Homo sapiens: one gene and its partners. The protein of the gene in region 6 purifies or fractionates together with the protein of the main gene of each other region. This does not show direct contact. Each region holds a gene or a part of one and is shown on either strand. Other genes may lie near its edges. The genes, in order: DPH1, LMBR1, DNM3, DENND6A, DIP2A, EFNB2 and MTMR1.

Region 1 (3,500 bases), on a different chromosome or scaffold from region 6:
AGGGCAAGGGCAGTGGCTGGGGGAAAGGTGAGGCGGAGAGAGTCCAGGAGGTGTGTAGTGTCTATCCGGATGTCCACAAAGACGTACAGCACCCGGAAGTCTTGGGCCGAGGTGTCCATGGGAACTGTGGGAGGGAGGAGTTCAGGGGCTGTTTGGGAAGGCAGGAGCAGCAGAGGGCCCGGCCAGGCTCAGGTCTCTGAGCAGCCAGGCGCAGTGGCTTCAGCCTGGGGGTAAAAGGACAGGGTAGGAGAAGAGGGGGGTCACAGATCCCCTAGAAGCTCCTTCTCAATCAGACTTCTCTGTCACCCGGCCGGGGCCCAGCCTGCTCTACAACCAACAGCCTTTCAAACACCTGCATCTGGGACAGAGCACCGTTGCCAAGGCAACCAAATCCAAAGGAAAGATCTACCTGCAGAGCGGGAAGGCAGAGGCCACCCCAGAAACCAGGAGGGACCTTGTGTCTCCAAGCAGGACAAGAAGGCACTGCCATGGGGAAGATGAATGTGCAGCCTGCCTCCCTGCCAGCCCCGCCACCGTCCAGGTGTCCTGGCCCCACCATACTCAGGCAACTGTGGCCGTAGTGCACCAAGAAGTCAGCTCCCAGGGCCCTCGCTGTGAAGTCATCCACACAGCAAGCCCCGTAGGTCACGTCACCCATCACCATCACTTCGGCCTCCGTGAACCTGCGGGCACAGGGGCGGGGAACGGTGGGACAGGGACACAGGGACTGAGGTAGGAGAGACCCAACCCTGGGAGGGTGTCTCAGGGCCCAGCTCCTCTCTCCCTACCTCTCCCAGTTCCTCGGGATGGCAGCTGCCACTTCTGCCAACAAAGATTAGGAGGGGCACAGCTGCCGCCTGCCCCAGCCTGGCAGCCGCTCCTGGAACTGTTGCTGCGTGAGGACCCTCATTCCTCTACCCAGGCTCAGGCTGCAGGAGGGACCCCAACCCTCACTCCGGCACACGTGGGGTCAAAACACAGACGCCCCATGCCCTGACTCACCCACCCAGAGCCGTGAGCACGCACACACACCCAAAGGTCCTCACTCCCGCGCTGAGTGCTGTGGTGGGCATGGGCGTGGCTGTATGAATACACACAGCCTCCCTCTTGCCGGGACCCCCACTCCCTCCCCACCACAGGCAGGGCCCCCACCCCCTCCCCACCACAGGCAGGGCCCCCTCACCCGGACCCCCACTACCTCCCCACCACAGGCAGGGCCCTCTCGTCCGGACCCCCACTACCTCCCCACCGCAGGCAGGGCCCTTGGTGCCCAGGATGGGGGGACCCAGGCACAGCTCCCCCATAGCACATGGCACCACCTACACGCCTCCTGCATCAGGAAGAGGAGGCTCTGGCCAGAACACTGCCGTGGGAACTGCTGCCAGGCCTGAATCACTGGGGGAGGGGGTGGGTGGGGAAGACCTTGTACCCCTGAACTCACCCTAGGAATGGAGGAGAACCCCCTCTTCCTTGAAAGAGACTCACACTTGGGGCGTGGAGCCTGGCTCAGTGACTGGGGTCCCCCCATCCTTCCCCTGGGGGTGTGGCAGTGGAAGAGTTGAGCTCCTGCTAGTCACCCCCTCCTCCACCCCCTTCCCCAAATCAGGCTGTGCCCAGAAGCAGATTATTCACCTCCTTAGAATGCAGCCCAGGCGTCTAAGTCAGCCACAGCACTTAATTTTTTATAGATTAAAATGTATGCAAATTGGCCTGAGCCCCAGAGAGCATCCCCAAGGGGCAAGACGGTGGGAGCAGGGAAGTGAGTCTGTGGCAACAAGATGGGGCAGCAGGGGAGGGAGGGCAGCAGCAGGGGAGGGGGATGGGGCAGCAGCAGGGGAGGGGGATGGGGCAGCAGGGGAGTGGGGGAGGAGGGGAGGGGGCAGCAGGGGAGGGGGGAGCAGGGGAGGGGGAAGGGGGAGTAGGGGAGGGGAATGGGGCAGCAGGGGAGGGGATGGGGAAACTGGGGAGGGGGATGGGGAGCAGGGGAGGGGAGGGGGAGCAGGGGAGGGGGAAGGGGAGGGGAGAGAGGGGGAGCAGGGGAGGGGAAGGGGGGAGAAGAGAGGTTTGGGGGAGCAGGGGAGGGAGGGTGGCAGCAGGGGAGGGGGATGGGGCAGCAGGGGATGGGGGAGCAGGGGAGGGGGATGGGGGAGAAGGGGAGGGGGAGGGAGGAGCAGGGGAGGGCGATGGGGCAGCAGGGGAGTGGGAGGTTCCCAGCATGAGATGACCTCCCCTTTCTTCGTTCCCCTCCCCTGTTCCTGTGCTGGTTCCAGATGGCTGAGCTCTCACCCTCCCCACCAAGGATGGCTCATTGTATTGCAGAAACTTAGAGTGACAGGGGTAGGATGTAGAGGAACTGAATACCTTCTCCCAGGCACCTCCCACTCCAAACCCATCCTTGCCCTACTTCCCCAAATGTGCCCGAGGAACAGGTGCCCCCCACCGCCCCCGACCGGCAGACCTCCCACTGATCACTCAGCGCATTTCAGGGGCAGCTTGGAGAATTCTTAGGGTCCTCCCCAGGTCCTACCACCTGCTCTGGGTCTAGCTTTGAAGACACTGGGATTGATTTCTTTCTCTGTCCCAAATGTTTAGGGGAGGGGGGATTTGCAGGGACAAGCAGGGCTCTCAGCAAGCTGGGAGATTTGTTTTGGGTTTTCCCTGAGTGTGTGTATGGTTGTGGGAGGGAAAGGGGGAAGGTGGAGGTTCAGAAGGAAAAAATGCCCGCCACCAGGGCTTTACCCACCCGGGTAATGAGCATAGGGGGTGGGGGAAGCCTGGCTCACCCTCCTCTCCAGTGCCCCAAGCCTCACCTTTCCAAGATATCCACAATGGTACAGGCAAAGAGGAGGAGGCCTTCCGGCATTTGCAAGGCCACTGCAAGACGAGCAGAGACATGAGAGGTGGAGGGCTAGGAAGGGGCTGCAAGGGGGACACTGTCCCATCTGGGCCAGGCAACCTCTCCACCCCAACCCCAGCTCAATGATCACAGGCTCACCCTTCTTGGCCTGGGCTTGTTGGATCCTCCAGATGGTCTTGGGGATCTCAAAGTTGTAGTTGGAAGGCAGGACCCGGATTGCTGCCTGCAGCTGAGGGTTCTTCAGGATCTCAGGGGGGATCTGATTGGCCACGCGGCCCCGAGGGGCCCGACCTAGAATGGATATAAGGCCTGAGTTGGTGTCTGTCTTTGGCTGAAGCCAGATTGAGATGGAATAGGGATCCCTTTTCAGGGCCTGCCGGTGCCCCCGCTCAAGCATAGAAATAAAAATTTTGAGTCATCTCAAGAAAAATCCCAGGCATCTTAGCTAGCCCTACAACCAGCAATTAGGGAATTAAATAACTTGCTAAACAAGAAGATAATAAACAACAGTCACCCAAGTCAGAGTCACGAGATGCCTGGTTCCCTATAGAAACTACACATAACACCTTGACATATATCCCTAAGTTGTTTTTCAGAAACCAGGACACCCACCCCCCCACCAGGTGAAAAATGCCAACTAATT
Region 2 (3,500 bases), on a different chromosome or scaffold from region 6:
TCTTAGTAAATAACTACTGCCCCAGAAAACTTGGTATAAAATTTGTGGATAGGCTGAACGTTCAGTTAAAGAAAGGATACAAAATCAAAATGATTTCAAGCGCAGCTCCCACAAAACCAAACGTAGAAAGAGAGGCATTTCCTATTCCAGGCCCCTGGGGTGGGAGAAAGACACTTTTCAGAATTTGATGACACCATTATATTGGTTTCCCTAAAACAGCTGTTTCATAAAATAAGACAGTTGAAATTATGAATGTTTACTACTTTGAAATAACATCTAGACTTTCAAAGGCCAACAAGACATGACATTAGACTGATTTCATCAACAAATTCAGGCACCATGTTAACAATTTTAATAAGCTCAAGAAAAATTACTTATCTCAAATGTAATTTAAGTTACTTGTCAAGATGACATGATTATGCTTACTGTTATAAAATGGGGCAACTTGCCACTTGAGGAAAAAAATCCTGAATAGTTTTGGGAAAGAGTTTTTAAAAACACAATAGAAAAATAAGAATAGGATACATAGCTATCTGAATGCTTACACAATATACAAAGATTACACAATTCAAGTATGTCAAAATTAAGCTAAGAGTAGAAAGAGAGTAAATGTGCATATCCTGTTCCCATACCTGAAAGTTTCCTTTGCCCAAATTTTCCTTGGGAATTCAGAGTTACAAAGGATGTAACTGTTAACATAGATTTTTAAAAAAGTAATGCTATAAATTTTTTCCTAAACAATTATCCCTATCTCAAAAACTATCTTTACCTAGAACTTAAAAAAAAAACACAAAAAAGTTACTATTTTTATAATTAGATCTGAAAAAATCATTCCCTACTGAAGTATTTTCAAAGATTACTAATAAAAGAAACTATCTGAATGTTTTACTAGTCAGCACAGATTACATCTAATAGAAACACCAGGGATAATTAAGAATCTACAGTCAGCCCAATAAAAAATAACTTTTTGACAATCTTTTGAAGAAGAAATAAATGATGCTGGTAGAAAGTGATGGGGTTCAAGACACACTACTCCAAAATTTGGGACCTGGTATTTGAGAAAACCTAGGAAGGTCACACACTGATCTGTCTCCTTCTCCTGCGAAGCAGGCCATAAGACCCCCATCCAAGGGTGCCCCCCGCAACCCACCCAGAGGAGAAGCACATGTTTATCTCCGGAGACACGAGGACACCGAGAAGAATATGAACAGGCCTTGCTAAATCCCCCCGGTTTATAATCATTAGATCACACCCCTGTCTTCCAATCATACTTCCCACTACTGTCCACTCTTCAACAAACCAGAGCATAAAAGTACACAGCTTTTTCTGTTTCTTTGGTCTTCTTTATTTCTGAAGACCCCTGTGATATGTAAAACTTATCTTAAATAAGTTTGTCAGCTTTTCTCTTATTAATCTTTTGTTATAGGCATCTCAGCCATGAACCTTCCAATAGGTTAGAAAAAGGTATTACTTCTTCTCCCCTACAGAAGCTTATTGATCAACAGAGATAATACTTTGGAATTATGCTATCTCAAGAGAAGCCATGTAGGAAGGATTAAGAGTATCTAATTTTTTTACACAATTATACAGGGATCTCCTATGACGTACAAGTCATTCTCCACTAAGCACTAAGGGGGATGGGTACAAAAATATACTATAGGGCTTGGGACTTGTTTTGTTGGTATAGTAAAATGGGTTAAAAGTGACTAGGAAGTCAGTATAGTAAGCGACTTCCTGTTCTATCAGTGGGTTTGGGTATAAAACTAAAGAAAAAGATAAGACTGTACATGGCAAAGGGTAGTTTCTTGTCTGTCTGTAGGATGAGGCACCTGGAGCATGATGGTGGGCTTGTACTCATGGAGAAGAGGCTGTAAGTGAATACAACAATGGCAATAACAGATGGCACAAGGTCCTGGAAAGACTCAGGTGGGGGGATCTGAATCAAGACTATGGCTAAAGGAATTTCATATAGCTAAATGAATTTCAGTAAAATCAAGATAAACTCTGATAAGAAATCTAAAAGGAAATTCCAACACTTGAAAAAAGGCCCTGTCAATCCAAAGTAAAAAATTAGAAACAAAAATCACAGTTTATATTTTAAAGGCTCTTTGCATAAAGAAATTCATACAACTTGAAGTATATACATGCACAAAGGTGAATGTTTTCATTTGCTTACTTGAAATACTCAGGGTATAGACATAGAATACTTTTGCAAAAGAAAGACATTTTAAAGGATTTTACTTTACCCTTGTTCCTTTTGGCATTGCTGTTTCATCAACCAATAGGCAAAGAATATTACAAGCCACCAAGAGGACCGAGATGGACTACAAGACAAACAGCAAACTGTCAGCTCTCAAGATTTTTCACCAATACAAAATATTAAAATCTAGGTAACCAAATACACGTTTCAGAATAGAGGGAAAGCAGTCAAGACCAAAACGCTATATATAAAACTAAAGTAATCAGACTACAAACAAGAACTGAAGAAATTCTAAAAGATTCTGCAAGTTATTGTCATTTCAAAGCTTGTGACAAAAGCTGGTAGTATATAGATCCTTTTACTAAGTGATCTCACCAATTGGAAACACACAACTCCACAGACTTAAAAAAGTGGTAAAATATTATCAGAACTAACTTCATAATGTAATTTTCATATTTTATCACAGAATTTAAAGCAGGTTATCTGCAACACCTTGTTTTCTTAATTTTCAATGAAAACAAAGACTGAATTTCCTGCTTTCATGAAGAAACAGATAATCTTCAGAATTTTTTTTAAATTGCCATTAATTTCCATTTTTGCTTTATTGGATTTTCATAAATAAAGGCATAGATGGATTTTAATCCTGTTGATAGAAAACTAGTTTATGAAAAACCATTTAGCTGAGGGAGCTGCCATACTCAAATGCTGAAGTAAATAAAATATAATTTGCTTTTATTTAACTAGGCAAATAAATTCTTACTGTCTCAATAAGAAGGAGAACCATAACAGCGGGATACACCAAATTTCTTTCCCATGCTGAAGCCTTTTTTCGCCTCTCTATTAAAAGGAAAAACAAAATAAAACAAAGTTTTCTCCAAATTAACATTTTCCTTCCATAATGCTATAATCTGTTTTATACATAATTTCTTTTTAAAAAACATAAATTACTTTTAATTTTCCTCCATAAACTAAAAAAACTACAGATAGGGCCTTGCTCTGTCACCCAGGCTAGAGCACAATGGTATAGCCGCAGCTCACTGCAACCTCCTAGGCTCAAGTGATCCTCCCATCTCAACCACCCAAGTAGCTGGGACTACAGATACATGCCACCATGCCTGGCTAATTTTTTTATTTATTTTTTGTGGAGACAGGTTCTTGCTATGTTGCCCAGGCTGGTCTTGAACTCCTGGGCTCAAACGATCCTCCCCGCTCAGCTTCCTAACATGGTGAGATTACAGGCACGAACTACGATACCCAGACAAAAATCAGAGTTTTAAAACCAGTTTGCTACATTAAACAC
Region 3 (3,500 bases), on a different chromosome or scaffold from region 6:
TGAGCAATGAAGATGAGCGATGAATGCATTAGTAAAACTGGTTACTTGCCTACTGATGTCCACACATGCGACTACTCATGATTTACTGCAACGGTTATCAAATATGTTGCTTTCGCATAATTCATTAGTGATTAATTGCCATGCCAGACACTTCGTTTAGTCTAACAGGGAGGATTCTAGTGGGCGGATTATAGTGGGACGAGTTGGTGATGGGGGTGGTCTCCGGCTAGAAAGAGAAAAAGAGAAAGGTAAAGAAACAAGTAGAATATCTAGCAGAACATTGTTCCAAGGACACTGAGAAAGAGCCATTACACACATGCTCATGCACATACAGGCCAGCAGAAGTGGTTATGATCTGTAATGATTTTAACATTGTCACCTTTCATTTATCTAGTAGTTTTAATGAAAATTACGTCTTTTTTCATATGCAAATCTTTCTCAAAACTGAAGTCATTCCTTCCAATACTAATAAGAAATATGAAACTATTTGAAAGCCATCTGAAACGTACTGCACATATCTTAGCCAATAGAATATAATAATTACATAGAATGAACTCAGGAACTAATAAGGTATACTGTTTCAGACAATGATGGCTTTTGAATTTTTATTTCTCACATATAATTTTCCTTTTTCTTTCAGGATATTATTATCACTTCTCATTGCCTTTTTGACTTTCTCCAATTTGTTCTATATTATGCTTGTAATTTACAGAGCACTAAAAATCAGAAAAGCAAGTCTTTAGAGTTCTCTGTAGCAAGTGTAAATAGGCTCAGTGTTGAGTGCCTGTTTAAATTGCAGGAGCTCTAGTTCCTATTTTGGGTCTTAAAGACTTTAGTATTGGTATTAGTAGTATTACTCACTTTCTAGTTGGTAATGATGTTTCTGGTAGCTGAGTTTACTAAGCAAACGTACTTTAGATAATGAAATATTACTGTATTTGAGAGTCTCAACATTACCAAGTAATATTATTTATTACTTATTTATTCCTCAAGCTTCTACATTTATTTCCTAAATATATTAATAAGTTTTTTTAGTGTATTTGTGTACTTGACTTCATATATGGTATCTTGGGTAGTCATTTTTTTACCCCCCCAAATTTGACAAAGTCTACAAATTGAAATGTTTCTTTTTGATAAAACTCTGCAACTGATTTTTTCAGAAAGACTCCTTCTGGAATTATAGTCATAAATTTTTCTTCTGTATTAGAAACTCTATATTGATCAAATTGAATGTCCTTTCTCAGGTATGAAGAAGTGAAGTTAGAAAAATTTAAGAAAACTATTATGAAAAATAGTTTTGAAAAATAGTTTTGAAAAAAATAGTTGTTGAAAAATCATGGAACTATAAAATTAAATTACACGATCAAGGAAAAATCAAAGCAGGAGAGATATTGTTGATTAATGGTGAAAATATTAACTATTTAGGCACAAACTCATAGATATTAGTAGAATTCCTTTTACCTCATGCACTTGAAAAATGTGTAAGAGGCTTCAAAGGAAATCTTTCTTTGGGGAGGTACAAAGCACTGGAATTACAGGTGTGAGCCATGGTACCCAGCCTTATTTTCATTTAAAATGGCCATATATGTTTAACTTATGTCCTGAATCTTGAATCTGCATAATTTTCTTCTTTGATAGGAAGTTTCTGAAGGGCGCAGGTCACACCCACTTAACTTGTTTCATACAGTGTTTAGCATGGTGTTACATGCAATTACATTCTCAATGTCATTTTGGTCATCTTCTGAGACTACTAACTAATCATTTAAGACTTACTTCAGTGAAGCCTTCCCTGACCTGCCTTCCCCTCTCCTGATACAGTTGTTTGTATAGCATCTCAACAAATCTCTATTATTAGTCATCACACTGAACTCTAATTAGGCTTATATGTTATCTTCACTGATGAGAAATGAGCTGTCTCTTAATCATCTTCATGTAACTGTGGTATCTAGCTCACTGCTTGTCATTCAGTCACTGAATGTTTGATAACTGAATGAATGAAAGTTCCTCCTAGAATCAAGAAATAACTAATGAATGCTTGTGATATTCATTGGTCTTATAAATACAAGGATATTTGTGAGTAAATCATGGCCATGGCAAAAAAAAAAAAGTAGCTAAAGTGACATGTAGGATTGAGATCCTTGGTGACTCTAAAGTATCTAACTGCTCAGTTCTTTAGTAGATATTTGGAATAAATACCAAATAATAAGCCCCCTGCCCTCAGGGAGTTTGTCAAATAATCATGTAACCTATGGAAATGTATTCTTAGCAATTAACCAGTTGGCTGGTGGGAGGAGAGAACTGGCCAGAATTTGAGCTTTAAGGAGGGAAATTCTACCAGAAGTTTTGATAATGGAATTAATTAGGTGATTTCATTAAATAAAAAGTTGATTTTAGACTACAAATTCAGTGAGAAGTAGGATACAGCATGGCATGATGGATTGGAAATCGTTTCATGAATATGTGATAGCTTGGATCAAGGCTTGTAGCCAAGAGAGAAAGGAATGAAACTGACTTCTCTTGATCCTTTTGTTCTTGGCTTAACTGTTATTCCTCAGTCCTTCTGGACCATCCCATAGTTTTCCTGACTTCCTCTGCCTTCCCCTATGACTTCATGTTTGTGTCTCTCGTAGCACGTAACCCTACTTGTGATTATGTATTTATTTACTAGATTATTACCAGTGTCCCCCAAATAGATTCAAAATTCCTTGAGAAAAGAAACCACATATTTTGCATTTATTATGTGTATTCAGCATTTGGTACAATGTGATTAGAAAGCAGTGGTTAAGTATTTGTTGAATAATGGACAAATGAAGAAATGACTGAAAAGTGCCTAAACAAGATATTTAGCCAGGCTAGAGTTTAGGCTAGATCAAGGTGAGTAGGTCTAGCGAGGCCAAGGATGCTACACTTTTAAGGCATTTATCAGAAGCTTATATTTGAGATACTATGTTTACATAGAAAGAGTCCTGGATCAGAAGTTAGAAAATGTGGATTCTAGCTCCAGTTGCCAAATTGTACAATCAGACTAGATGATCTATGTCAAGACTTCCAGTTATATATTGCATAGATTATTTATTGAGCATCTAATATGTGGACTGCTTCATGCTACATGACTTTAAAGAGCTCAGCATCTATTCAGAATGGAAGATGAGTGGAATAAAACAAATATGAAAGTAGCTTTATTATAGTACTTCATTTTAAGTGGAAAAGTGGGGCAAAATTTTGTAATTCGGAGTCTGAGAATACACTCTGGGAAGTCTGAAAATACAATAATGTGGTCAAAGTGATGGCAAACATGATTGTAACTGCTGCATATAAAACTTGGAAGTAGGAATGTAGGTCTATAATGAGTGAAATTGGAACTTAAATGATGGCGATTGAAGGGAAAAATTCAATGGTGTGGATAGAGAATAGAAAGACTTAAGTACTCTTATGGCACAGTAAATTCTCATTAATATCTGCTTTAATCCTTGGACCATGTGGCTGGGACAAGAGCACAA
Region 4 (3,500 bases), on a different chromosome or scaffold from region 6:
AGGTACTTATTATGGCCTATGCAAATGGTCCCAGTGCTCCTATTATAATAGGTACCAACAAAAATTTAATGATGCTACCCTCATACTGATCCTGTATTACTTACAAAGGACGCTTAAGGTTAGGTAGGAATTCACTAAATGAGTAATACAGATAGAATTCAAATAAACTAGACCAAAAGAGTAATTATTTCATTATTTCAGAAAAACTCAATAAATAATTACAATTGCTAACTTTATCAAGTGTTTTCCTTGTGCCAGGCACTGTATTGTATCAATTAATCCTCACAATACACTAGAAATGAGAACTATTATCATCTCACTTCATCTGCCCATGGCTATAAACTATTATCAGTTAGAAACCCTACCTTCAGGAAATCCAACTTTATGTCATTGACATAGGTCACGCTGGTCTTTTGTCCAAACAGAAGCAAGTATCTACTGTGCATTCCACAGGACGGTAAAGCATTTTGCCAACTAAAGGATCACAAAAATGCTAAAAGCAGTTCATACAACTCAGAAAATAGCCCTGGGTACTATTATTACACTGAGTATTAGCATGTAAACAGGAACACTTTGAGAAATGAGGTAAACTATTACTACCAAGAATTTAAGAATTTTAGTTCAAGCTACCGCTAGCATTTCACATCTTCTTTGCTTCAGTTTCCCTAAATAGTAAACAACACAGTATAGTGGGGGGAAATTAGGCTTCAGAATCAAAAGGACCAGGGTTCAAATCCTGGCTTATTAAGCAAGTGATATGGGGCAAGTTACCTCTTTAAGTTCCAGTTCCCTTATTTAAAAAGTGTTTAGCTCATGCCTGTAATTTCAGCACTTTGGGAGGCCGCAGCGGGTGGATCACAAGGTCAGGAGTTCAAGACCAGTCTAGCCAAGATGGTGAAACCCCATCTCTACTAAAAATACAAAAATTAGCCCGGTGTGGTGGTGGGCACCTGTAATCCCAGCTACTCAGGAGGCTGAGGCAGAGAATTGCTTGAACCCAGAAGGTGGAGGTTGCAGCGAGCCAAGATTGTGCCACTGCACTCCAGCCTGGGTGACAGAGTGAGACTCCGTCTCAAAAAAAAAAAAAAAAAAAGAGTTTATGGGCCAGGCACGGTGGCCCATGCCTGTAATCCCAGCACCTTGGGAGGCCAAGGTGGGCAGATCACGAGGTCAGGAGTTTGAGACCGGCCTGACCAACATGGTGAAACCCCGTCGTCTCTACTAAAAATACAAAAATTAGCTGGGTGCGGTGGCACGTGCCTGTAATCCCAGCTACTTAGGAGGCTGAGGCAGGAGAATCGCTGGAACTTGGGAATCAGAGGTTGCGGTGAGCTGAGATCGTGCCACTGCACTCTAGCCTGGGTGACAAAGCGAGACTCTGTTTCAAGAAAAGAGTCTAAAGCCAGGCATGGTGGCTCATGCCTATAATCCCAGCACTTTGGAAGGCTAAGGCAGGTGGACTGTGGGAGGCTGAGGCAGGCAGATCACTTGAGGCCAGGAGTTCAAGACCAGTCTGGGCAACACAGCAAAACCCTGTTTCTACAAAAAAACAAAAAAGTAGCCAGGCATGTTGGTACACACCTGTAGTCCAGCTACTTGACAGGCTGAGGTGAGAGAATTGCTTGAGCCTGGGAGGTCCAGGCTGCAGTGCACTGTAGCCTGGTGACACAGCATGACCCTGTCTCAAATAAATAAATAAAGTCCAAATATTACTTAATAATTAGTGACGGAAAGGAATAAATGAGGCTGGGTACAATGGCTCATGCCTGGGATCTCAACACTTTGGGAGGTGGAGGCAGGAGGTTCCCTTGAGTCCAGGAGTTCAAGATCACACTGGGCAACACAAAAATAAAACAATTTAATCAGGCATGGTGGCACACACCTGGAGTGCAATGGCACAGTCTCGGCTCACTGCAACCTCCGCCTCCCTGGTTCAAGTGATCCTCCTGCCTCAGCCTCCAGAGTAGCTGGGATTACAGGTATGCGCCACCATGCCTGGCTAATTTTTTTTTTTTTTTGTATTTTTAGTAGAGATGGGTTTCACCACGTTGGCCAAGCTAGTCTCGAACTCCTGACCTCAGCAGATCTGCCTGCCTCTGCCTCCCAAAGTGCTGGGATTACAGGCGTGAGCCACCACGTCCAGCCTAGAATTCTTGTTTATATGAGTTATATCTATCAACATTCACCACTGTAGAAACTAAAAGTATCATTAAAAAAAATTGTTTATTTATTTTAAAATAATAACCTATTACTCATTAACATATTCAATTTTTATGAAAAGTAACTATATTCAGGTTGAGTATTCCTTATCCAAAATGCTTGGTGGGATCAGAAGTGTTTTGGATCTCAGATCTTTTCAGATTCTAGAATATTTGAATTATACTTACTCAGTTGGACATCCCAAATCCAAAAACCTGAAATCCAAAATGCTCCAATGAGCATTTCCTTTAAAAAGCATCATGTCAGTACTCAGAAAGTTTCAGGTTTTGGAGCGTCTCAGATTTTGAATGTTTAGATTAGGAACACACAACCTGTATTCCTAAACAAAACAAAAACCTTACTAAGATGGCATTGTTTACATGTTTGCAAATATCTTTAATGTCTGATTTAACAGAAATAACTAGATTCTCATATCTGCTTCAGCATTCATTCTTTTTTTTTAAAAAAAAATTTGTTTTTCTTTAATGTTTGCTCTTGGCAGAATCATTCTATGTTCATTCTATTGCAATATGTTGTTCTGGTTGAAGAACATGAAGAAAAGCCATACATAGTTTGAAAACATCCTATAAATCCCCTGAAACGGTCTCAGAGATGCCCAGAAGTCCTCAGACCACATTTTGACAACAGCTGGTTTACAAGAAAAACAGAAAAGTTTATATAAAGAGAAAATTAAAAAACATACTCCAAACATGCCTACACATAATGATCCTCTGGAACTGATTCTGATTAAGCAGATGGGTGAGCCCCAGAATCCTCATATGTAACAAATGCCCCAGATGATTCTTATGATAAGAAGAACAAAATAAATAGAATCCCAATAATACAAAAATAGCCTAAATTTACCAAGATATAAATGTTTAGCCTCATTTTCAATAAGCATTAACAGATATTTCCATATCCCAGGTAAAACAGAACATAATCCTTTATTTCAAAGTTACATAATGGTGTAGAATTTTCAGGCACATATACCCTTGGCTCTCAAACAGCTCAAAGTTACTAAAGTTTATATCATAAAACCCAAGCTTAGAAATCTTTCAAAATAAATCTTTGATTACATAAGATTATAACTGCTCTCAGGTAAGGCAGTAAATGCTTGTTGCCTTCCAATACCATTCTTCCTTCTCCTTTTATTAATATAGGCATACCTTGTTTTATTGTGCATCATTTTATTGTGCTTTGCAGTTACCAGTTTCTACAAATTACAGGTTTGTGGCAAGCCTACATTAAGCAAGTCTATCAGCATCATTTTTCCAACAATGTGTTCACTTTGTGTCTCTGTG
Region 5 (3,500 bases), on a different chromosome or scaffold from region 6:
AGTAGTTTTGTTCAATTCTAGTATTACAATGTAAGAAAACTACTGAGTCCATTTTTACAGTTTTTAAAATTGTCACAGTGTACCCCATAAATATATACAATTAGTACTTATCAATTAAATAATATTAATTTAAAGATATCTCAAGTTAAGTATCTGACATTTGAAGTAAATCAGGTGCTGACTATACTTTATCAACAGATCATCTATAACCATAAAGATTCTACTTATATATTTATATCCATGACAGCTGAGGTCAAAACTACAGTCATAGATAAAGTAATAGAAAACTAAAAGTGTTTTCCTCTTTTTGAATGAAAAATGCCCTGACCCTCAGTATGTCACAGAGTAAGCCAGCCCCCCAGGGCAGGCCTGTGAACCCAGCACTGTGTATAAATCAATCAGTGGGATATAGGTTCCATGTTCCATAAAATCAACATCCATGTGCATTTACTGAAAACAACCCTGATGGGGTTGTCTGGACTCTGCTAAGAGACACCGTGTGCCCTCTTGGCCAGCACAACCACAGAGACCCTGTAAGCATGCTAAAGACAGTGCATCTCCCTACCTGGCATGACCCGGATTAATGGGCAAAGGCACTACCCAGGGGTGGTTTTGACAGGTGCAGTGACAGTCACATGATTAGGTACGTCAGGTATCTGTGTGAGGCTGGAGGGGCCACCGCCCCACCCCCGAGAGCCCTTACCTTCTGAGTACCCGCACGCCTGGGTCAGAGCCCGGCACTGTGCCAGCAGGGATGCGTGGGACACTGTGACCCCCACCGTACTGCCTTCTTTGCTGGTTTTATACTGAAAGATTTCAAGGAAAAAAACATGATGTGGTATTTCTAGAGGTGACAACAGACAGAATGGAAACTGGTAGAATCTTCAAAAGAAGAAGTGGTCAGTGTCTCTCCTCTAACCATCGGCCTCTAACCAGCAGCCCAGGTACATGGCAAAACCCTGGCCGCTGAGGGGATGCTTCAGTGGAAGTTGTGGCTCCTCTTGGGCAGGTGCCCGAGGGTAATGGTGCGCCATGGGCTCCCTCATAACTGTCTGCATCCCCAGGGAGCCAGTTAGGAGAGAATTAGATGAGAGAGAAACCTGGAAGGATCTGAGCAAGGATTTATATGACACTCTGTATTTCCAGGGCAGAGATAAAACAAGAACTCTTAGGCCGAAACTTAACAAAAAAGAATAGCAACTTACATTCTTATGAAAAGCAAGACTTAAGCCTGTGGGACATGTTTTTACATTCTCTAAGTTAGGAACAGTCATTACCTCAATGTAGGCAGTCCCAGTCCCTGTGTCCTGGGCCAGAGGGTGCCAGTCCTTTGGGGGCTTGGCTAGATGCTTCCCATCAATCACTAGCCAGGAGAGCGGGGGCCAACCTGTGACACACAGACAGGACACAGAACAGCAAGCAGTCAGAGGCATCTGCTCCCCACACTCGAAGCCTGCGCCTCCAACATGCAGCACTAGCTACTGAGCGAATAAGGAGTGCAAGTTTTAGTCTCATTTCATTTTATATAATTTAAAAAGGTACATCCGGCCAGTGGCTACCACATTAGACAGTACAGGTCGAGACATGAAGCCAGATGAAAACCGAGATTCACCAAGGACTCGAACAAGGGATCACTTTTGCTGAAGACCCAGACACCTCTGTCATGTTTAATTTCTGGAACACCATGCATTTAACACAGACCACAGTCAGAACACTGACTCCCCTTCCCTTGGGAGGCCTCACCTTTGAAAGCTGCCACCTCTCCTGTCTGTGCCTTGGGGAGGCCTTTCTGACAAGCGTCTGTGGTCAGGGCCAAGAAGACTCCACAGCTGCCCAGCAGAAACCCAACCTGCTGGCTGCCTGCATCCTGCAGAAAGCAGAGTGACCGTGTGGGGTGGGGTGCTCACAGCAGCCACAGCCCCAGACCCTTGGTGCTCCAGGCCATGCACAGAGAACAGATCTTTTTTTCATCCCTCATAAAACTTCCAGAATAATTCAGTCCCATTATTGATATATATGATCTTTTCACGGAAATAGTTCATGAAAATGTGACAACTATGTTTAAATTTAAAAGATAATTTTGGTTTGTATTTGTGTTGAAATATAAAGTTTAATGGGCTAATTTCTCAAAGTTTATTCTTACAAATGACATTTAGAAGCATTTTTAATAAACTCCAAAGTTAATGGCATTGAAATTTCTATTGAATCATGTTTGAAATTTACAAATTAATCTAGAGAGGCCTGGTCACCAACGATATTAAATTATTTCCACACAGAAACACATTTCCTTGTAGCCAAGTCTTCTGTGTCCCTCAGCAGTATTCTGTCATTTTCTTCATATAAATTTGACAAATCTCTAGTTTTACTCCTAAGAACCACTGCATTCAAATACCTGCCCATCACATATTATGCTTTGAGATACACTAGTTTGATTTGCAAATTTTACTTTTGGGATTCTTGAATATTTCTGGATAATGCTCCTGTTAACAACTGCCTGAATTCTGGGACAGGATGACAGAAAACTGATTTTCTCAAATTCATGCCTTGTCTATTTTTTTTCAGTAATCATATTATTGATAGTTATATCAAAAATGTTACAGATACCTAGATCAGCAAGACCCCACATTAATAATTTATCAGCAACAGAAACTGCCTACGGTCATATAAGTGAACAGAAATGCAAGATAATTTCCATCTCGTTTATTCAAAACTGCCACTGAGAAGTGAGCTATATCACTGTAATGATATATTTATCCCTAAGAAATAATAATTATTTTCTATAAACATATGGTTTTGAGGAAAAGTTGAACAAAATCTTATTGAATCATAATTCTATTCATTAGAGGAAAAAATGGCTATCATTTCTGTTGGGAAATTCATGTAGATGATAGAACAGCTCCACCTAATAAGAGTGTGGTGTGGGAGCATCACCAGCAAAACGGTTCTCAGTGCCCCTCTCATTAACAAGAAGAGAGGCAGGCAAAACGGCATCTGATTTCTCTTGAGTCCTGGCCAGCCTGTTGACTACTAGCTTTCTCTCCTCTGTCAAAACAGCTGCTTGCTGCCTGCCCACATGAGTGAAAAGGAAGTAAGATACTGCTGGTATCAAGTTCAGAAGCGAACCACACGGGACCTGAGCCATGGGTTTGCTACCTTTCTTGTTAATGGCACTTCTATGGGGACAGGAACCAGCTCTGCCAGGAGACACCCATAAAATGCAACCATGAACATCACAGGGTCACTATTCGGAAACACGAGCGCCACCTACAACAGGACAAAGAAATGAATATTCCAAATTTCCAATTTTTACAATATCTAGTTAAATTAAAAGCTAGTTATAAATAAAATTTTTGTAAGCCCCAAATATTGTAATAATTGTGCTTGAAACCATAAGGGACAAGTCCAAATAGTATTTAACTGAGTAGAGACAGTTGACTCAGGGCCTTTGAGAACACGCAACAATGAATAACCAATAAGTGCTGACTTTGTAAGACAAAATT
Region 6 (3,500 bases):
GTGCAGAAATAGATCAGGCGACCACTGCCTCCGTCCATTTCCCAGGCACCCTGTGAGACCCGATAATGCAATACAGGTCAGCAGAAAAGTCCAGACTTGACATCCCAACGTGCCATGGTCTGGTCTGTGAATGAAAATCACATGAGGTGACCTCTGAACTCTAAGTGGCTGGTTTATGTTTTCAGTGTATTAGGCCCGTGTTTTAAACAAGCATGTGCTCGTAGTGTAGGTTAAAACTTTCTGTTGTCTTCATTAATTATGCTGTGTTCTAGTCTATTAATATTAAAGAATATTGTGTTGCATAATGACTAATTTTTTTATTTTTTGGAGACGGAGTCTTGCTCTGTCACCCAGGCTGGAGTGCAGTAGTGCGATCTCGGCTCACTGCAACCTCCGCCTCTCGGATTCAAGCAATTCTCTGTCTCAGCCTCCGAGTAACTAGGACTACAGGCGCCCGCCACCATGCCCAGCTAAGTGTTGTATTTTTAATAGAGACGGGGTTTTACCATCTTGGCCAGGCTGGTCTTGAACTCCTGACCTCGTGATCCACCCGCCTCAGCCTCCCAAAGTGCTGGGATTATAGGCGTGAGCCACCACGCCTGGCAACATAAGGACTATTTTTTAAAGTTTTTACAATTATGACTGTGAAGTTGAAATGTCTAAATTATTAGAGATCCAGTTTAGATTACTAAATATTTATGTCTAATTGAGATGATTAGACTTAGCCAAAGTATCCATGTAGAAGTATTAGAGTCTAGATTGGTGAAAAACTTGAAAAAGCTTGGCTTAAGTTCAATAGGTAATCCAAGAGTAAAAACAGATTCCAATATCAGATCTTTTCACCATAGTCATGTTAAGTTTGGAAGCCCTACTTGAGTGTTTCCAGTTTTTTCCACATTATATTGTGTCTATATTTGATTCAAAGGCAGGGCATCTATTGTCTTGCTTAGGACTGATTCACTGGGAAAAGCCACTGGAGTTGCCTATTTCCACTCAGTATGCCTCACTCTTAGAGTAGCTTCCCATGGTTCCCAGGCAGGCCCTCCAGTGAGAATGCACCAAGCCACACGCCATGGCCTGGGAAGCAGTCCTGAACCTGGAGATTGTCTTGATGGAAAGGAAGAGGCAGCCTTCCCCTCCCAGGAAGATAGTAGAGAGCCTGCTCTGACTTCGCTCAGGGATGGAACTGGTCTGGCTCAGTTCTCTCTCCTGTGTGGGACATGAATCACTCTTGGTGGTCTTTGCTTTTTATTTGGGCTTAAAATCAGCAGACTTTATTAAATGACACCTCTCTCTAACCACTCTCTGTCTGGGCGAAGTTTAACAAGAACAGCCTCCCCCCATGTGGTATGGGTTGTAACTGTGGCGGTTTCCCTCTGCTGTTTTTGGTTACAAGATGAACATTATCTGAACACACAGAAAGAAATCTGTATTTGGCATCCATAATGGAAAGTCAGTTTAGTAATTTAAACTTAGCCAGTTATCATCATCATAATTCTTTTTAACACTTTCAAAGTCAGCATAGGAGAAGTGTATTGTTGAATATTACAAAATATTTAGGGCATAGATAGATGTGCTGTGTAGTTTGATTTGTTAATGTGTCTAAGCAATCAAAGCAACAGAATTCAAATATAAACCCCATCACTTCCAAAATAGGAACTCTGTTTACTGACTTGATTATAACATATGGAACTCAATTGTTTTCCATTAAAAAATGATACTATTAGGAAACTCACCCCATTTTCTTTTCATATATATTCTGCTATTTGCATAATTGTCTGGAGTCCATATGTAATATTAAATGTAAAACACAAATGCCATGTAGCTGGTCTGTTTCTTCCTCACCTTTTGGTTCCTGGCCTCCTGGGGAAGGGTTGCACATCTGAGCCGTGGTCTCAGATGACTGCCTCGGAAGAAGCCTCTTCCCTTCAGGCACCACTGATGTGTGCTTGGTGTGGAGCTAGACTTTCCCTGGCTCTCCATGTGACGCTCACATGTGCGTGTCTTGATTTCCCTTAACTTCATGGCTTATCTATGAACAGCTTGATTTGGGGGAAAAAAATGTGTTTCCCAATGCTGGAGTTATAATTGAATGTGCTGCAGTCAAAACTGAAATGTGTGCAGAGAAAGGGGGCTTTTCCTGTCATGCTCATTGGGCACCAGTGTGTCTTCACCTGTTTTGTGTGTTAGGTCCATGCGTCATGCTGAAATGAAGAACATGGGATGTATGGGGCTTTGGACAGTGCTGAGCCAAAAGCAAGTGCTCAAAAGCAGCTGTGTTTGTATTATTAGTGGTTCTGGAGGTGGCTGATTGCCTTGCATTTTAAGTAGAGAGGGATTGTAGAAGACTGCCAATACTTAGAACTTTTTCCAGAGAGGAAGGGTCAGAAACTGCATCTGCAGGGCTCCTTGCTCTCCAGAAATGCCAGTGTGCCTGGGAGGGCATCTTCAGAAATCCAGTCTCTCCTCCTCAGTGTGTCCTGTACCGACTCAGTGGTTCTGTCTTCAGAATTCCTATCATGTCTGTGATCTGCAAATAGTGGTATTTAATTTGACTTCAATTTGTATAAATGTTAGCTTCTATTTGTTCATTCCTATTTTTTGTTCAATTAATACATTATTTATTGAGCATCTACTCTGTGTCAGCCCCTTGGGTGTTTAATACTGAATTAGTCACATGTGGGACTTGCCTGCCCTCAGGGAGCTAGACTATAAATTCCTAATGATCAGTGGTCTCCACTTTTCTGTCACTCATAATGTCTGGCACAACATAGGTTACTTGAGTTGTTACACTCACAGTACTGTTGTTTGCTGCCATGGTGCTTTAGGAAGTGTGAGAGTTCCCGGGAGGCAGAGTCAATAATGCAGACTACACGTAGTGAAAACATGGCCAGGAGAGCTGTAGTTCAGGCTCTCAGCTCAACTGCACTCTGTCCACTGAGAAGCCATAATTTCTTCACTTAAAGTGACTGTGCGCTATGGCTGTTTATATATACGCTTAAAAAGTAAAAGCTGCTAAACCACTCAAGGATTGGGGCCTTTTGTATTGATTTAATTAAAGGAACAATCATTGTTTTAATGAGCTCTAGAAACAATTACTTTTGAAGAGCCGAGGATCAAATTCTTGCCTCACGTTTTGCCACAGTGTGTTCTGAAAGGTGAATTAATGCTTTTGGAATCATCAGGAATAGTGAGCTTTGTCACGATTTACTTTTTACAAGCGTATCTAATATGCATATTGAAATGTGAGCCTCCCCACCACACTTCCGCTTTGATAAGCATCCCCCGGATTGCCGTCACTGACCATTATAGATTTTTAACAAAGTTGGACAGTACACACTGAATGAAAACTTTACATCAAGGAAGGCCTGGCGTGTTTGTAAAATGAATTAAAAGGCTCATTAAATGATTTATATGACTTACGCCTTCTGAAAATATGGCCTCAAACACAGAGATCCCCAAAGCCACACCGACCCCTGCGTCCCATGTTCTCGACCTCA
Region 7 (3,500 bases), on a different chromosome or scaffold from region 6:
CAAGCATCCATCAGCAGATGAGCAGATAAACAACATGTGGTATATACACACAAGGGAATACTATTCAGCTATAAAAAATCATGAAAATTTGATATTTGTCACAACATGGATGAACCTTGAAAATATTATGCTTAGTGAAGTAACTCAGTCATGGGAGGACAAATACTGTAGGATTCCACTTATATGAAGTACCTAGAAAAGGCAAATGTATATGAAGACAGAAATATTAGTGGTTGTCAGGGGCTGGGGGAAGTGAGGAATGACTGTTTAATGTGTACAGCATTTCCTTTTGAGGTGAAGAGTACGGTTTTTGTTTTGTTTTGTTTTTTGAGACGGAGTTTTGCTCTGTTGCCCAGGCTGGAGTGCAGTGGCATGACCTCGGCTCACTGCAACCTCTGCCTCCCAGGTTCAAGCAATTATCCTGCCTCAGCCTACTCAGTAGCTGGGACTACAGGCGCCCGCTAACACATCTGGCTAATTTTTGTATTTTTAGTAGAGACGGGGTTTCACCATGTTGGCCAGGCTGGTCTCGAACTCCTGACCTCAGGTGATCTGCCTGTCTGGGCCTCCCAAAGAGCTGGGATTACAGGCCTGAGCCACCGCGCCTGGCCAGAGTATGTTTTCAAACTAGAGGTGATGGTTACATAATACTGTGAATTTACTAAAGGACACCGAATTGAGCATTTTAAATGGTTAATTCTATGTTATATGAATTTTACCTCAATTTTTTAAAAAGGCATAAATACACTAAAATAAAAACGCCCTATGAGGAACATACAATGCCTGAGGTCCATGTATTTTATTATGGCAATTCAGGTCTGATATGATACAGAAGAGAAAGCCTGCACGTGTGTGTGTATATATGCGCTTACGTGTGTCACACATGACGTTTACATCCATATGATACCGCAAAACAGTCCAGCATAAACCTCACTGTCTGAACTTACCAGTGCAAACCTGTGTCCAAAGCTTATCCACTCCTTTTCTACGAGAGTTTCAAATCCTTTAATGGTCCTGTAGTAACTGTCCAACATTAGCATAGCCAGAGATGTGAGCTGGGCTGTTCGGTCCCAACCGTCGCTGCAATGCACCACCACAGATGTTTTCCCAGATTCTATTTTATCAGCAATTCTTACTGCCCCAGCAAGCAGCATCTTCAGAAAAAAAAGGCACATTAGACCAGGCTACATTGAATTTCAATTAAATGTAAAACAATGTAAAATAATTCTGGGGAGAGCTTTGGAAGTTCTGGTCAATAAACCAAGCAAGAATGGCAGGCAATCAGCTGAGAATCACTAGGAAATATTAGCATCACATTAAAAAAATAAAAAGAAAAGAAAAAATCTTATACTGGAGAAAAACTACAGGAGTAAATATGGTTCCTTATTAAAGGGCCACGAAGTTCTTTAAAAGCCTGACCTAAGGCAAGCATTTTTCCCTTTTCACTATGTCACAAAAGCCCTCCACAAAGACCCCAGTCTGATGCTGTCCATGGAAACTATTGAATAAGAAAGTTCATGCACACAGCCAAGAGGCACTTGGAGATATACGTATTTATGGCACAGGCACAAAGAAGTCTTAACTGGAAAGCATATAAAGTGCTGGATCTCTTTACCCTTATATATTCCAGCCAATGCGTCCCATCCACATTGGAGAGCCACCGCGCCTCATCGATCGAAGGGTACACAATCTCTTTTAATTTGCGTAGTGACTCTCGCATGACATGAATGTTGTGGATCTCCAAGAACACAAGTTCTGCATTTGGGTAAGCACTTTCACTTTCATATCCTCCACCCTTTGTCTACGAAAAACAAAACAAATACATCACATTATCTGGAATTAACTTTTCTATTCTTTCTAGTGCTATGAGATACAGACCACTAAAGAAGCAACAAACTCATCTGCAAATAAACCTCCTATATCCTTGTATGAGTTTCCTAGGGCTGCTGGAAAAAGAACCACAAACTCAGTGGCTTAAAACAACAGAAGTTTATTCTCTCCTAGTTCTGGAGGCTGGAAGTCTGAATTCAAGGTATCGGCAGTGCCATGCTTCCTCCGAACACTCTAGGGGAGGATCCTTCCTTGGCTGCCCCAGGTTCCGATAGTCCCAGGTGTTCTTGGCTTATACACACATCATTCTGATCTCTGCCTCCATTTCCACCTGACCTTCTTTCCTTTGTCTGTGTCTGTCTCTTCTCCTCTTCTTCTAAGGACACAGTCATTTGGCTTAACCCCCACCCCCCAATTCAATATGACCACATCCTAACTTAATTACATTTACAAAGACCCTATTGTGAAATAAGGCCACATTTATAGGTACTTGGAGTTAGGACTGCAACATATCTCTGAGCTAACAGTGGGATGTGCTTAAGGAACTGAAAAGAACCTCACATAGCTGAGACATGGACCTGGAAGATGTGGCGAGACAGGAAGGAAAGGACCCGTGGGTGGAGGGCTTTGGAGACCCTGTTCAGGAACCTGGATATCACTGCCTTGCGGCTCTGAGGGATGTGCACAGAGTTGTCCACTGAGAAGATCACTCTGTACAACATGGTGACTACAGTCAATAACAATGTAGTCTGTATCTGAAAACTGCTGAGAGTAGATTTTAAGTGTTCTCACCACAAAAAATGGTGTGTTAATTAGCTTGATTTAGCCATTCCACAATGTGTACACAATCAAAATACCACGTTGTACACCATAAATATATACAATTCATTTATCAATTGAAATAGTAACAATAAGTTTTTTTTAAAAAAGAAGATCACTCTGGTCATAATGTGGAGATGAGATTGCAGGGTGTGAGGCAGAAGTCCAATTTCAAGGTTCCTGCTGTAGGTGAGGTAAGAGATGATGGGTCATCCAAAAACTAGAAGAGGAGGGCATACTTCCTAGTTCATTCCATGAGGCTAGCTGTATCCTGATACCAAAGCTAGACAAAGACATCACAAGAAGAGAAAACCACAGATTAACATCCCTTATGAAAATACATGCAAATATCCTCAACAAAATACTAGCAAACCCAATCCAAGAGTATATGAAGGGGACTGATCACATACCATGAACGGGTGGGATTTATCCCAGGAATGTAAGGAGGTTTTATTAGCTTCCTAAGGGTGCTATCACAAACTGGGGGACTTAAAACAACATAAAATTTATTCTCTCACAGTTCTGGAGGCTGAAAGTCCGAGATCAGGGTGCTGGCAGAGTTGGTTCCTTTAGGAGGGTATAGGGAAGAATCTGTTCCATGTCTCTCTCTTAGCTTCTGGTGGTTGCTGGAAGTCCTTGGCACTCCTCAGCTTCTAGCTGCATCATTTAAATCTCTGCCTCTATTGCCACATCGCCATCTTCCTTCTGTGTGTGCCTGTGTCTCTACATGGCTTTCTTATACGGACACTAGGCACTGGATTTAGGGCCAACCCTACTCCAAGATGGCTTCATCATAATTAATACATCTGCAAAGATCCTATTTCTAAATAAGGTCACATTCTGAGGTTCCA

Evidence for each region.
Region 1: the proteins of EFNB2 (region 6) and DPH1 purify together in Homo sapiens (affinity purification with mass spectrometry; 3 studies listed by BioGRID and IntAct, with this or other methods). This does not show direct contact.
Region 2: the proteins of EFNB2 (region 6) and LMBR1 purify together in Homo sapiens (affinity purification with mass spectrometry; 3 studies listed by BioGRID and IntAct, with this or other methods). This does not show direct contact.
Region 3: the proteins of EFNB2 (region 6) and DNM3 purify together in Homo sapiens (affinity purification with mass spectrometry; 3 studies listed by BioGRID and IntAct, with this or other methods). This does not show direct contact.
Region 4: the proteins of EFNB2 (region 6) and DENND6A purify together in Homo sapiens (affinity purification with mass spectrometry; 3 studies listed by BioGRID and IntAct, with this or other methods). This does not show direct contact.
Region 5: the proteins of EFNB2 (region 6) and DIP2A purify together in Homo sapiens (affinity purification with mass spectrometry; 3 studies listed by BioGRID and IntAct, with this or other methods). This does not show direct contact.
Region 7: the proteins of EFNB2 (region 6) and MTMR1 purify together in Homo sapiens (affinity purification with mass spectrometry; 3 studies listed by BioGRID and IntAct, with this or other methods). This does not show direct contact.

The regions. Positions count from the first base shown.
Region 1 is NC_000017.11:2,033,153-2,036,652, reverse strand, and holds part of DPH1 (2-(3-amino-3-carboxypropyl)histidine synthase subunit 1), read right to left. Parts: intron 3,149-3,500; coding exon 2,996-3,148; intron 2,875-2,995; coding exon 2,811-2,874; intron 684-2,810; coding exon 562-683; intron 125-561; coding exon 1-124. UniProt on the Homo sapiens protein: Catalyzes the first step of diphthamide biosynthesis, a post-translational modification of histidine which occurs in elongation factor 2.
Region 2 is NC_000007.14:156,725,684-156,729,183, forward strand, and holds part of LMBR1 (limb region 1 protein homolog), read right to left. Parts: intron 3,038-3,500; coding exon 2,961-3,037; intron 2,325-2,960; coding exon 2,247-2,324; intron 155-2,246; coding exon 81-154; intron 1-80. UniProt on the Homo sapiens protein: Putative membrane receptor.
Region 3 is NC_000001.11:172,404,498-172,407,997, reverse strand, and holds part of DNM3 (dynamin-3), read right to left. Parts: exon of another isoform or gene 227-3,500; coding exon 157-226; 3' UTR 1-156. UniProt on the Homo sapiens protein: Microtubule-associated force-producing protein involved in producing microtubule bundles and able to bind and hydrolyze GTP. Most probably involved in vesicular trafficking processes, in particular endocytosis.
Region 4 is NC_000003.12:57,683,078-57,686,577, forward strand, and holds part of DENND6A (protein DENND6A), read right to left. Parts: intron 1-3,500.
Region 5 is NC_000021.9:46,531,891-46,535,390, reverse strand, and holds part of DIP2A (disco-interacting protein 2 homolog A), read right to left. Parts: intron 3,265-3,500; coding exon 3,154-3,264; intron 1,868-3,153; coding exon 1,744-1,867; intron 1,388-1,743; coding exon 1,278-1,387; intron 807-1,277; coding exon 704-806; intron 1-703. UniProt on the Homo sapiens protein: Catalyzes the de novo synthesis of acetyl-CoA in vitro. Promotes acetylation of CTTN, possibly by providing the acetyl donor, ensuring correct dendritic spine morphology and synaptic transmission.
Region 6 is NC_000013.11:106,515,163-106,518,662, reverse strand, and holds part of EFNB2 (ephrin-B2 isoform 1 precursor), read left to right. Parts: intron 1-3,500. UniProt on the Homo sapiens protein: Cell surface transmembrane ligand for Eph receptors, a family of receptor tyrosine kinases which are crucial for migration, repulsion and adhesion during neuronal, vascular and epithelial development.
Region 7 is NC_000023.11:150,734,896-150,738,395, reverse strand, and holds part of MTMR1 (phosphatidylinositol-3-phosphate phosphatase MTMR1), read right to left. Parts: intron 2,933-3,500; coding exon of another isoform or gene 2,897-2,932; exon of another isoform or gene 2,695-2,896; intron 1,802-2,694; coding exon 1,616-1,801; intron 1,155-1,615; coding exon 948-1,154; intron 1-947. UniProt on the Homo sapiens protein: Lipid phosphatase that specifically dephosphorylates the D-3 position of phosphatidylinositol 3-phosphate, generating phosphatidylinositol. Could also dephosphorylate phosphatidylinositol 3,5-bisphosphate to produce phosphatidylinositol 5-phosphate.